Homo sapiens: one gene and its partner. The protein of the gene in region 2 purifies or fractionates together with the protein of the main gene of each other region. This does not show direct contact. Each region holds a gene or a part of one and is shown on either strand. Other genes may lie near its edges.

Region 1 (7,161 bases), on a different chromosome or scaffold from region 2:
ACAAAAATTGGCCAAGTGTGGTGGTGCATACCTGTAATCCCAGCAGGAGGCTGAGCCAGGAGAATCGCTTGAACATGGGAGGCGAAGAGTATGGTGAACCAAGATCATGCCACTGCACTCCAGCCTGGACAACAGAGTGAGACTCTGTCTCAAATAAAAATCTAAAAATGCAAAGGTCTCTACATCTTATCAACACACCTCAAGAAAAAAAAATGAAAATCTAATTTTCCTTACGTCTTGTAATTAAGGGATGCCATAACAACAAGTAAGATATGGTAAGGATATTTTTACAATTAAAAGAGAAAAAAACAAAGTAAGTACACCCACCTCCAATTACTTACCAAACACTGCTCGGGCCATATTGCCAGTATAAATTAGCCTTCCATCTTCTGATTTGTCAGATGGCGTATTTAAGAATCGAACATATCCTTCCCAATAAACAGGGATCTATTGAAACAGGGATCATTATGGTCAACTAACCTTCTTAAATTTTTTTAAGTTTTTTTTTTTGAGACAGAGTCTTGCTCTGTCTCCCAGACTGGAGGGCAGTGGTGCGATCTCAGCTCACCATTGCAACCTCTGCTTCCCGGGTTCAAGCAATTCTCCTGCCTCAGTCTCCTGAGTAGCTGGGATTACAGGTGCCCACCACCACACCCGGCTAATTTCTGTATTTTTATTAGAGACGGGGTTTCACCATGTTGGCCAGACTGGTCTTGAACTCTTGACCTCAAGTGATCTGCCACCTTGGCCTCCCAAAGTGCTGGGATTACAGGCATGAGCCACCATGCCCAGCTTAAGTTTATTTTTAAAATTGTAATGCAGGTGCAGTGGCTCATGCCTGTAATCCCAGCACTTTGGGAGGCCGAGGGGGGCGGATCACTTGAGGTCAGGAGTTCAAGACCAGCCTGGCCAACATGGTGAAACCCCGTCTCTACTAAAAATGCAAACAATTAGCCGGGCATGGTGTCTGGCGCCTGTAATCCAGCTACTCCGGAGGCTGAGGCAGAAGAATCGCTTGAACCTGGGAGGCGGAGATTGCAGTGGTCCGAGATCACACCACTGTACTCCAACCTGGGCAACAGAGCACGACTCCGTCTCAAAAAAATAAAATAAAATTGTAATGAAAAGAACTTGTCACATGAGGTGACATAAGGAATTCTCCCAAATAATCTACAGAGTTAAAGAAATAAATTGGCTGACAGAATGGCTTGCCTTAATTCTAGTCACAAGTAGAAAACTGCAGAGCTGGAGTTTGTTAGCTTAGCATCCCAGCTCTCAGGTTTCTAGGTCTAGTGTGACCTTGAACAAGTAAAAATAGTAACAGTTTCTTCTACTCCACTGTTAATGACGACATCATTTCCATTCTATTTAAATGCAACACCTTTTCAAAAAATAAATACATTTAGCTGGTGTAATGGAACACGTCTATAGCCCCAGCTACTGGGGAGGCTGAGGTGGATCACTTGAGCCCAGGAGTTTAAGGCCAGCCTGGGCAACATGGCAAGACCCCATCTCTAAGAAATAAAATTTAATTTTACTAAAATAATTTAAGTAAAATACTCCGCAAACTCACATTATATTTAAAGTCCAGGCCTTTTACAAATACTGCTAAAATATTTATATGATAGTATTAAAGAGATCAAATCTTTCTCTAAAGACCTTGTAAATACCGTGTATCCCCTGGTCCTCTTATTTCTTGACAAGAAATAAAATTTGGCTGGGCACAGCGGCTCACGCCTGTAATCCCAACCCTTTGACAGGCCGAGGCAGGAGGATGATTTGAGGTCAGGAGTTTAAGACGAGCCTGGCCAACACGGTGAAACCCCGTCTCTACTAAAAATACAAAAAAAAAATCAGCCGGGGTGTGGTGGAGCGCGCCTGTAATCCCAACTACTGGGGAGGCTGAGGCAGGAGAATCGCTTGAACCCGGAAGGCGGAGGTTGCAGTGAGCCAAGATCACGTCACTGCACTCCAACCAGGGTGACAGAGCGAGACTTCACCTCCAAAAAAAAAGAAATAAAATTTACTTGAAATCCTACATCAAATTTCAAGGGAACAGAAGCGTTCCCCATACATCTGAAAATGAGTTTCACAGTGTATACACTTCAAAATGTAAAAGGCATGCCTAATTCCTCAATGCTGAAATGTAATTAGATTCCAATTTCCATTTTAAGCATTTCTTCCAAGTTTTAACCAGGTTTGCCAATCCTGATATTTTACAGAGTAGAATTAGAAGACAATTTATTCAGATCAAAATAAAAGAATTAACATCTGCATCCCCCTTTTCCCAGGGACCAAAGTAATTCTTAAAAGTACAGCCACCTCATAAAAGTAGAACAAGCTCAAAGTCAGGTTAACCTGGCTCTTTCGGTTCTATTTCCAGGTGCTGCATCCAATTTTTTGCAAATTAACACTTCTAAGCTTCTACTCAAGGGCAGAAAAGGAACTACATATAGTTGTCACCACAAACCCTCTGGATTTGGAACTACCATAAAAGTAAGCACTTTCCAGCCGTTCTCCTGGACTCGCGGAGGCTGAGGACCCCGGGGCCCTCGGCCTGCTACTTCTGCAAGCCCCGCAGAGGGGGCTCCTCCCGCGCTCCAGCCACGGACACCTGGGAGAGGTCGCGAAGAGCCGCTGGGGCTCCCCAGGCCCGACACGACGCCCGCCCTCCCCGCCTCACTTGGGACACCAGACCTCGGACGCCCTACCTGCGCTCGACCCGGACGCCGGAGAAGGCGCGCGGCTCCCGAAGGCCCCGTACTCCAGCCGGCTACCGGCCCCGAAGGCCCGCTGCTGGAGGACGCCCGGGAGACAGAGGCCCGGGGACCTCGGAGCGCGGCGGCCGCACACAATGCAGTCCTCCTTCCGCAGAGAGGCAGTTCGACCGCCCACGGGCTGCCCAACGCCAGAAACAGCATCACGCGGGTGACGAGCGGCTGCGGACGCCCCAGCTGCACGAGTCCACGACTGCGAGACACGGCTTCCCACCCGACTGCCGCACAAGTGGCGCATGCCCAGCCCGGGACGCCTGACTGGCAGCTGGGCTGCCTGCGCGTGCGCAGAATCTGCCGCCCGCCTGCCGCCCGCCTGCCGCCCGCCTGCCGCCCGCCTGCCGCCCGCCTGCCGCCCGCCTGCCGCCCGCCTGCCGCCTTCCCGGCCGCGCGCGTTATCCGCCAGCTGAGCTGGGAGCCCGCCGCTCTGTCCTTGGCTCAGCGGCTCCTCCTTCCTAGAATTTTACCTTCTTTATAACAGTGTGGAGGGGCAGAGGGCTGTACGAGAATGACAATGCCCAGAAGCCAGGGTTAAATATTTTTTTTTCTCGTGGACGACATCACTAAAAACTGTTTCCTTTGCGGAAAATGATTCTAGCCTGTTGGCACAGAAGAAAGAATATACGATTTGAACAAAAATGAGTGATAACTTAATTGAATCATCGGGTTGGAGGAAAATAAATGGAATTGTTCATGTAATATTGATAGGTGTTACCAGATTTGTCTTCGGAAATCATTCACATCCATATACACATTGATTCATTACTTGTTAAAGAGGTACTGAATCTATTGCCAGGACTGAGCTAGGAGCAGAGGATACAAAATACTAGATTAAACTGGGAATCCACAGTGCTTAAACAGTGGAGGAAAATACCTGAAAATTGGCTAGAATATAATGTAATACAATTGAGACACCGCAATATACAAAATGTGGCTGGCCGTGGTGGCTTACACCTGTAATCCCAGCGCTTTGGGAGGTTTAGGCAGGAAGATCTCTTGAGGCCAGGAGTTTGAGACCAGCCTGAGCAATACAGGGAGACCCCGTCTCTACAAAAAAAAAAAAAAAAAAAAAACCTAAAACAAAAATAAGCCACACATGGTAAGTGTGTGCCTGTGGTCCCAGCTACCCAGGAGGCTGACATGGTAGGATTGCTTGAGCCCAAAGTCGAGGCTTCAGTGAGCCAAGACCACACTACTGCACTCCAGCCTGGACCACAAAGTGACACCGTGTCTCAAAAAAAAGAACAAACAAATGCCACAGAAGTACAAAGAAGAACATGATTAATTTTGCCTCAGAATGTCTTCAGACTGGCTTCACATTTAGCTCAGTCTTGAAGGATGAGCATCTTAGTAATAGAAACACACTTTTGTTTACCACTGCAGAACTATACATGTTTTTGATTTGACATGTTATTTGCACCGGAGAGGAACAAATTCATAGTCTAAAATAATGTGTGGCCAGGGGCGGGAGCTCACGCCTGCAATTCCAATACTACGTGGAGGCCCAGGTGAGAGGATCACTTGATTCCAGGAGTTTGAGACCAGCCTGGGCAACAAAGTGAGACCCTGTCTCTACAAAAAATTTTTAAATTAGCTGGGCATGGTGGCACCTGCCTGTAGTCCCAGCTACTTGGGAGGCTGAGGTGGAAGGATCACTTGAGCCCAAGAGGTTGAGGCTGCAGTGAGCCCTGATTGCACCACTGCACTGAGTGACACAGCTAGACCCTGTCTCAAAAATAAAAATAAAAATAAATCAATAGAATATGATCATGTTGGCAACTCCAAATACTGTCTATTGGGGGGAGTATTCAGAAGGAGATAATGATAATACCTCTATATGGATAACTTTATTTTATAAAAAGTTAGCTTCTACTTACATTTTGTTTATTTTTATTTTAATATTTGTTTTAATAGTAGAGATGGAGTTTCACCATATAGCCCAGGTTGGTCTCAAACTCCTGAGGCTCAAGCTATCCGCCCACCTCAGCCTCCCAAAGTGCTGGAATTACAAGGGTGAGCCACTGTGCCCACCTTTTATTTTGTTTTTGAGACAGGGTCTTGCTCTGTCGCCCAGGCTGGAGTGCAGTGGCACCATCATAGCTCACTGCAGCCTTGACCTCCCAGGCTCAAGTGTTCCTCTCACTTCAGCCTCCCAAGTACCTGGGACTACAGGCCACGTCACCATGCCCAGCTAATTTTTGTATTTTTAGTGGATACAGGGTTTCCTTTTGTTGCCCAGGCTGGTCTTGAGCTCCTGGAATCAAGGGATCCTCCCGCCTGGGCCTCCCAAAGTGTCACAGAACCTGAGCTACCACACCTGGCCTATTTACATTTTAAAAACTCTTCTGTTTAGGGTAATTCACTCACAATCAATATTCACTCTATTATTTTGCTGATATATTTAAAATTTTCACATAAAAATGTTTTTCTTAACTATATTAAGAGAACTCAAATTTTTTATCTTCTGTAAAGCTGTTCCCCCTACAAATACTGTAAGTAAATGAAAATAAAAACTTTTGTTTGATCTATTTCTCAAAATTTCTAAATAGATAAAATCAGATTATAGTCTGAAAACTCTGTACCATAGATTTACATAGAATTGTTATTTATGTTAGATGGATTTTCCAGTTCCAGTAAGTTAGAGACATTTGTTAAATATAAACTAATGGGATTTTAGAATGATTTTAAGGATGTTTTTAGGCCGCGCGCAGTGGCTCACGGCTGTAATCCCAGCACTTTGGGAGGCCAAGGTGGGCGGATCACTTGTGGTCAGGAGTTTGAGACCAGCCTGGCCAACATGGTGAAACCCCGTCTTCACTAAAAACACAGAAAAAAGTCGCCCGGCGTGGTGGAGCACACCCGTAATCCCAGCTACTCAGGGGGCTGAGGCACGAGAATTGCTTGGGCCTGGGAGGTGGAGGCTGCAGTGAGCCGAGATTGCGCCACTGCACGCCAGCCTGGGAGACAGAGCGAGACACCCTCTCAATAAAAAAGAAGGAAAGAAAAGAGAAGAGAAAAGAAAAGGGGCCTACAGCCTCCTCATCTGCACCTCCATGCCTGTCCTCCCCACCAAACTCTACTTCGAGCTACCATTACAGCCAAAAAATCTTTGTTCTGATTTCTGTAAAGGCTTTAAAAAATTTATCCAAGACAATCTCCTTGATTATTGCAACTAATTATAAAAAACCAATGTCTTTTATCTACCAAATTAACTAAATTAAACAAAAAAAAAGCCTTTCTGGCAAGTCCTCAGTTCAACAAACTCTAGATAGCCTGTTATCTATTTTTTGAGCACACAAAGTGCCTCGTTGAGCACCTTGTAATGTTGTCTTGGCCCTACATACATTCTCTTCATGCCACACTCCTGGAAAACAGTAGAAGGTGAACTTTATTTAGCTGTTTCAGCCTTCCTGGAAAGGTGCCTGTATATCTTACCATAGGAAACGCGGGGGGGTGGGAAGCGGGGCGTGGAATGAGAAAGAAGTTCCCAAAAACTGAGTAACGGTTTGGCAGGCGCCTGGATTTTCTGTGCGTGAGCTCCGGATCCAGGACAGCTGAGCTAACCCAGAGGCAAAGGCAGGACCCTCGCGGGTGGAGTGGGGGACGTGGTTAGTTTTCAGTTAACATTGAATTCTACCGGGAAGAGAGGAAATGAGGCCAGCCGATTGCGCTAGTCGTTGCTGTGCTGGCTCTTCAGCACGCACAGCAACTTTTCACCAGGGACAGATGCTGCTTCATAAAGAGTACGATCTCGTTAGCAAAGAAACCGCCCTCCCACGTTTCAATCTTTCCTCAGCAGTCTCCCACCTCCAGGCGTAACCCTAAATGAGAGGTACGGACAGTCTCTGTAACCACCAAAATCTTAACACGCAGTGCGAGAAACTACAAGTCCCAGGATGCAGGGCTGCCTCGGTCCCAACGCCGACGGTATCCACCAGAGAAACTACAAATCCCAGAATGCAGTGCTCTCTCGGACTCCCGAGAGCCTCTCTAAGGATGCGTCTTTACAGCAATTGGATCAGGGTCTGCGCTGCATGCTGGGAATCCAGAAGAGCTAGACTCGGATTGGTCGAAATTTGCCGGTTGCGTTCATAGGCTGGCCTACTATAGGGGAAAAGAGTAGGGCGCTACGCCCTACCTCCAGACGGAAGTGAGCGACACACTCTGCGTCCTCGCCTCACCAGGTACGGATCTCCCGCGCGTCGCCGAAAGCGGCTCTGACCCAGCGGAAGTAATTCTTTCGACTGCCCCGGAACCCACCGGAGCAGGCAGCTGGGGGTGGGGGGGCGGCCCTGGGATAGGGGCTGTGGCAGTACGCGGGGACCCGGCTGCGGTGGCTGCGGGACTGACGAGTGAGTCTCGGGCTGGGGCGGAAACGGAGCTCCGG
Region 2 (7,021 bases):
ACAGACTCAGGCCCTGTGCATTTGCTATTCCCCCACACCTGAGGTCCCTCCTAGCTTCTCTCTGAACTGTGGGCTCCTTCTGCTCATTCAGATTTCAGTTCATGTGTCATCTCCTCAGAGGGGCAGTCCTTGGACCCCTCACACCCAACCCTCTATCACTCTTTCTAGTGCTCACACTATAAAATTACACTGTTTATTTATGGGTTTGTTTTTTATTGCCTGTTTCCTCTGACTAGCAGGTAAGCTGTGCAAGGGCAGGGACCTTGTACATCTTATTTACTACAAGGTCTCAGTGGCCAGTGCATGTCTGATGTATAGAAGTCACTCTAAATATTTTTTGAACAAAAGAATGAATTTTAAAAATGGGTAGGAGAATCATAGATCCCATCAATGCAAGGAAATAGCAATGGTAGTTTTCAAATTTAAGTTGATTTACTTTTAATTGCTCATTTCTTCTTGAGGGAAACTGGGGTGTTTTAAGGATGACTTCCTGATTATTGTCCTTTTTGAGGCTAATAGCTCACATAACACCCAGGACCATCATAATATCCCTCTTGGTGTTTGTGTCAGAAACAACATGGTGCTCCTGGTCAATGTCTGGGGCATCAGGGCATTTATTATGTTTTCCTAAATTGCTTCACTTTTTTCATGACTGATCTTGGCTTAAAAGAGACTTCCAGTATTTCAGCTATAACAATTCTCACCTCTCCACCTCAGTGTATATTATGTAGTAAAAATAGGTAAGTATGTTGGAGAACGTTACAAAATGGAATAATCTATTGGAATTGGGAGAAATATAAATATATTAGACACCTTGCTTAAACATCAGCATCTGTGGCTAAAGCTAACCCAAATTAGAATTTCTCTTCAGTTATTCTCCAGATTTGATGATTTCCTTATTTATTAAACAATGATAAACTGGACCCTTTTTTGCTTAACATGCTTTCTTTTTCCTCAGTTTCTATGTAGAATTATGTGCAGTTCTCAATTTTTGTTTTCAATCTGTTGTCACTGGAAATGGCAGAGTGACCCAAGACTCAACAGATGTAATAAAGTCCATATCCTCTACTGTCTATGGGCACAGTGTCACATGGTGCCAGGGGTCATAAGAAGATGGGAAGGGGGTCAGAAACCTCGCAGGATAAAAAGGGCAGGGAGAAAGGCTTCAATGAGAAGCTGATTCTTCCTGTTAATTTCATTCTTATCTGTTGTCATATGACTCTGGTATTTTGATGTGGGATGTATATGGAGAGAGGAGCTGAACATAGGAGAGAATGTGTAATGGGCCATTTTCTCTTTCCTGAATATGCCTTGCTTAGAATGTTTATTTGATTGCAGCTGCAGAGACAATCATTGTCCTAACCCCATACTGTCAAGTGGGCAACCCAACATCGTAAAACTCCAATATCATGTGAGCCAGATCTGCCTTTGTTTTCTCTTGAACCTTCTCCAGAACCCAATTGGGCCATGGCTACTTAAAAATGGAAATTCCCTAAAAATTAATGGACCCTTTGTCAAGTCTTTGCAAACTGTAATTTTTACATGAAGCATGTGCCGTGTAAGTAGACCTATACTTGCTAGGGCATTTCACTATTCCTGAGGACTGGCTGAAGTTCTTGTGGACTGACTACTGGACAACCCGGGAGCTCTGTAAAACACAGCTTGACTATATTAACTTACATCTTCAGAACACCAAGTATCTTTACGGCAGGAAATAATAAAAGAGTTTTACTATGCATTGCCAGAAAGAGTACAAGGAAGCTTGGAAACTCGGATATGTTCTGACCTCATGTTTTAGGCAGGGGCAAGACGTATCTAATCCACCTGGAGCCTTGGTTTTCTGATTTGTCATTACTACCCAAATCTCAATTTACATCTTAAGTGAAGTTCACTGGGCCCTCACAACTCCATGTCCATGCAGCTCCTCAGACTGGAAGGGCACCCTTCCCTTCACCTCTTTGTTTCCCCTGTTCCTCTGAGAGTCACCTGTGGTCCCAGTTCACCTGGGGAGCTGCTGGACTCCAGGGCTCGTCAGCACCGTACAATTCCCTTTCTCAGGACACCAAGCACACTGGATTGGGACTGCTTCCTTGGTCGTCTGGTCCCCTGGAGGCAGGGACTGGTTTTTGTTTGTTTTTTATTTTTCGTTAATTCCCCATCAGTCGTGCCTCATAGAGTACCCAACCAAAAGAAAGTATGTAGAAAGTGTTTGTTGCGTGAATGAGTAAATTTGAAAATCAGGGACCTGGCGCAGTGAATCTTTAAGACCCTTGGAGTTCTATGGTTGAATGAGTCTGAAGGAACTTTGGGGAGAAGGAATTAATGCTAAAATCTATAGGGAAAGAAGATAGGAGGAACTTTCATTAATTCTGTTCTATTCCAACACTTGGATTTGTACTATACCATCAGGGTTTAGAGCAATCGCTCCTCCTCTACAGGCTTTGCTTCCATTTTCAGAGTTTACTAGAAGCTCTTTCACCTGAGGTGCATACCAAAGCTCTTTGGGATATGGTAGAATGCCAGTCACCAGGGGCAGGGGAAGGTTTGAGGACCTCTCACTGTCCTCTTCATCTCGATGCCTCATGGACATTTGAGAGAGGTGGAGATGCAAAGGCTGGAGAGAAGAGAGTGGCACAGGGTGGGGTGAGGAGTTTCCTGCTGCCTCTCTGGCCTTTAGCCAGGGATATAAGAGGCTCCCTTTGTGTTTGACAGAATACGCATGAGTGCTGTTTAGTATCCTGCCTTCAGTCACAGAAAGAGAATGTTCAAGTTAAAAAAGACCATAGCCTAATGAAGTCTAAACTTTAAAAATTTTAATGAAGTACATCTTTTGGTTTCAAAAATAAAATTATATGCAGAACTTCAATAAACTAGAGATATAAAATGACAGTGTTGAGATTGAAAGGGGAAGGGAGGAGTTTGCTTTGCTTAGGTTTCCTCTTCCTGTCTGTGCCATCCCTAAAAGATCCAGAAGTCCACCTTTTCCTTCCCTTTAAGTGTACAGACTTAGAGCTAGGGACAGGAATGTTAAATGCCCCGGCCAAGGTGCTTCAGGCAGTCTACAGAGAACAGCCAGTGTGCTCTCCTCATAATGTCTCCAAGAGACCTGTGCTATAGTTTGAATGTCCCTTCCAAAACTCATGTTTAATCTTAATACCCAATGTGGCAGTATTGAGAGGTGGAGCCTTTGAGAGGCTATGGACTACGAAATATTGAACGATGAAGGCTCTGCCTTCATGAGTGGATTATCCCACTCATGGATTAATGGATTAAAGAGTTAACGGATTAATGGATTATCATGGAAATGTGACTTGTGGCTTTATATGAAGAATAAGAGAGACTTGAGCATAGCATGTTAGCATGTTCAGCCCCCTCACCATATTATACCCTGTACCCACTTGGGACCCTTCAGAGAGTCCCCACTAGCAAGCCAGAAAGCTTTTACCAGATGCGCCCCTTTGACCTGGGACTTCCCAGCTTTCAGAACTGTTAAGAAATAAATTTTGTTTCTTATACATTACCCTGTGTCAGGTATTCTGTTATAAGCAACACAAAACAGACTAAGACAACCCAGATCCTAGCCGAAAGCTAACTGAGAAGCAGGCAGTACTGAATTCTCTGCTCTGGACAGTAGGGCTGCATGAGGATTTTAATGTTTCCAGTATGTCATTCTAACATCTCCCCTCAAATAAAGAAAAAAAAAATTTTACAAAGAAAACCTGATAGGACTTTAAGAGAAATCCCAGATTGCAACCTTTGTACAATCAGCAACAAATTGAAAACTTTGAATATTAATTAAATTAGTTAAACTAAATGAAATTTAAGGGGTCCAGATAGTAAAGTATGTTGAATGAAAATTGTCATTCCTTAATATTTGTTTTAGGGATTGAGATTTCCATATGCTGGGTTTTCCTAAGTCAAGCAATAACAGGGCCTTTACCTGTTCCAGAAGATGGAGGGGTGATAGATCCTGGGCTGTCGTCTTCAGGCTCCGAGACAGTGACAGTGGGGACTGTGTCAGGACTTGGCTTTAGACATATATCTTGCTTCTCAGGGGTCTTCTCTTGGGTAGTGGTTTCAACAGAAGGTTCTATTTCCGTCAGTGTGATTTTGACAGGGGTGGTGATCTGAGGAGCCCTGCGCTGTTCTTCAGAGAGATCATCTATGTATGGAGCAAATGTGGATTCTTCCAATAAATGGTCCTTGATGATTTTTCCCTCCACAGGAGCTGGTTTGTCAGGTTCACGGACTCCTTCAGGTTTAATTGAGATGTCAGTGTCTTTATTCTTAAAGTCCAAGTCTTTATCTTCCAGCTCGGGGTGATGTTGTTCTTGGTGCTTCACCTCCTCGGGTCTGGTTATGTCAATGTATTTATAGGCCTCTGCTTTCATCTGGTCCAGAGGGTCTGCTAAGATCTTGTTCACTTCCGTGGACTCTGCAGGAGTCATCTCTATTCCAGAATCAGAACTAAATAAGCCACGAGACTCTATCCCAGGCACATCTGGTAAGGAGGGGCCGGGTGTACCCAGCTCCTCAGGGCTCTCTGAAATGGTGACGTGGCCATTTTCCTTCTGAAGAATTCCAGTAAAATATGTAGAATCCTCCTGAGGTGGATAGCAGATGTCAGAAATGAGAGATGTGTAACACGATCCTTCCCCATCTTTTGATGTTGTTGAGAAGGTGTGGTCCATGGCACTGGAAACACCTGCCACACCTATGAATCAAAGCAGCAGCAGACAGTGAGTGGGTGCTTGGCGTCAGCTCTCTCTCTTGTCTAACCCACCACCCACCCCTGCCTGGTGAAGACATGACATCCTTTCTCCTTAAGCCCTCGGAGTTCCCTCGGAGCTCCCTCAGAGCACCAGCATGTTAAATTTCCTAATCTCCCCGATAGTCCATACTTGTGGTATTTTTCCAGTAACAGACCCCAGAGGCTCACATAAACTGCCAGGACCAGATAAGTTGGGGACAGATCCTATAAGACTAGGAAATTTATTTTCAACGTCTACCACCTCAACACACAGTGACTTGATCTTAGTATTATTAAAAAGAAACCCTCTTTGTATCTAAAGTATTAACAGCTCTTTAAGTAGAGGTGGAAATTAGGCTACCTCAGGATTGTAACTGCAACAATAGGATAGCTGACTGGGTACAGGAGCTGCTCTTGGAAATTCAATGGCTGGGAGGAGCCTCAAAGAACCCACCTGTCCAGTCCTTTCATTCATGGACTACTGATCCATCCAGTCTCTTTTTCAAGGTCCGCAGAGAAAGGACCTCCTAGCTTTGGGCCTCATTCCAATGTCATATCACCCTAATGGTGTGCTTCCCTGTTTATTTCATCAGTTTTCCCTCTTGTTTTGTTTTCCTCCTCTTTTACTCCTCTACTGCCCATTCATTGCCATCCAGTGATATTCAAAGTCACCCACTGGCAATTCCTTCATTCCACTGGTGGTGCTAAGGGTAAGACAGGTTTCCAAGTTTGAGTCTATAGAATATTTTCACCAGGCTCTAATTCTACTAATACACCAGCCATTTTTTATATTCATTAATAGTGGGCATAGGCCAGGTGCAGTGGCTCACGCCTGTAATTCCAGCACTTTGGGAGGCCGAGGCAGGCGGATCTCCTGAGGTCGGGAGTTCGTAGACCAGCCTGACAACATGGAGAAACTCCGTCTCTACTAAAAATACAAAATTAGCCAGGCGTGTTGGCGCATGCCTGTAATCCCAGCTACTCAGGAGGCTGATGCAGGAGAATTGCTTGAACCCAGGAGGAGGTTGCGGTAAGCTGAGATTGCGCCATTGCACTCCAGCCTGGGCAACAAGAGCAAAACTCCATCTCAAAAAAAACAAAAAAATAGTGAGCATAAAAGGAAAACCCTCCACTGTTTTACTTTGCTGTAAAATTCTACCAGAAGGTATGAAAACCAACCATACCAGAGCATACATTGAGGCGTCACTATATGCTAAGCAGTGGGATTTTTAATCTAATTTTTACAATTGTACAAATTAAGTCCCACACTCTCTACATCTACATACAAACACATTACACACACACATATACACAAACACACACACAGTACGTACAATATCAAAGGTCTTAAGACACACCTGAAGAATAGACTAGAGCAATAACTCATATAAAAGTCATCAAAACAGTGGCAGTAACAGGTCAATAGCTAACATGCGAGTGCTTGCTATGTGTCAGGCATTGTTCTAAACTTTTCATTAATATCAACTCATTTCATAATCAAAGCAATCCTAGAAGGTTGGCAATATTGTTAGGCTCATTTTACAGATGAGGAAACTGAGAAACAAAGGGGTTAAATAACTCACCTAAGATCTTACAGGCAGTAAGTGGTAGAACCAGGATTCACACCCAAGTAACCTGGAAGCCAAGAAACCTCCCCTAATGCGCTTTGCCCCGATTAAGTCAGTCTGTGAGGTTTTTTTTTTTTTTTTTTCCGGGAATATTTACTCAGCATTATTACAAACGAACTTAACTTTTGTCTTTTCCTAGCTTTCTTTTTGGTTGCACAAGCTATTGTTTCTCTACGGGCAGTGGAAAAGCACAAAGCCTCTTCCCTGTTCTAGCACTTTCCTACCTCAGCGGCTTTGCACTAGCTGTTTCCTTTTCTTGGAACTCTCTTCTCCTAGATACCTATATACCTAATTCTCTCACCCCCAAGTCTTTGCTCAAATGTCGCCGTCTTAAGAAAAATGACCCTAACCCTCCATCTCAAATTGCAACTTGCCTTCCCCTCCCCACTCCTGGCAATCCTATTCGCTACCCTTCTCTGATTTTTCTTTTTCCTGTATTGCTTATCTCCTTCTTAAATACTGTATAGTTAACATATGTTTTATGCATCGATTGTCTCCTCTTGCTAGGTGAGCTCACACACACAGCATGGTAAGCTCCATAAGGGCAGGAATTTCTGACTATTTTGCTCACCAATATAGGCACCTAAAACAGGGCCTGATGAATAGTAGGTACTCAATACATATTTGCAAAATAAAGGAAAGT

What was found. Proteins that work in one complex are often made in the same cells at the same time.
Region 1: the proteins of RTN1 (region 2) and TMEM70 purify together in Homo sapiens (affinity purification with mass spectrometry; 2 studies listed by BioGRID and IntAct, with this or other methods). This does not show direct contact.

Annotation. Positions count from the first base shown.
Region 1 is NC_000008.11:73,972,042-73,979,202, reverse strand, and holds the start of TMEM70 (transmembrane protein 70, mitochondrial), read right to left. Parts: upstream 3,009-7,161; 5' UTR 2,922-3,008; coding exon 2,712-2,921; intron 448-2,711; coding exon 342-447; coding exon of another isoform or gene 334-341; exon of another isoform or gene 328-333; intron 125-327; exon of another isoform or gene 32-124; intron 1-31. UniProt on the Homo sapiens protein: Scaffold protein that participates in the c-ring assembly of mitochondrial ATP synthase (F(1)F(0) ATP synthase or complex V) by facilitating the membrane insertion and oligomer formation of the subunit c/ATP5MC1 through its interaction.
Region 2 is NC_000014.9:59,741,768-59,748,788, forward strand, and holds part of RTN1 (reticulon-1), read right to left. Parts: intron 4,715-7,021; coding exon 3,941-4,714; intron 1-3,940. UniProt on the Homo sapiens protein: Inhibits amyloid precursor protein processing, probably by blocking BACE1 activity.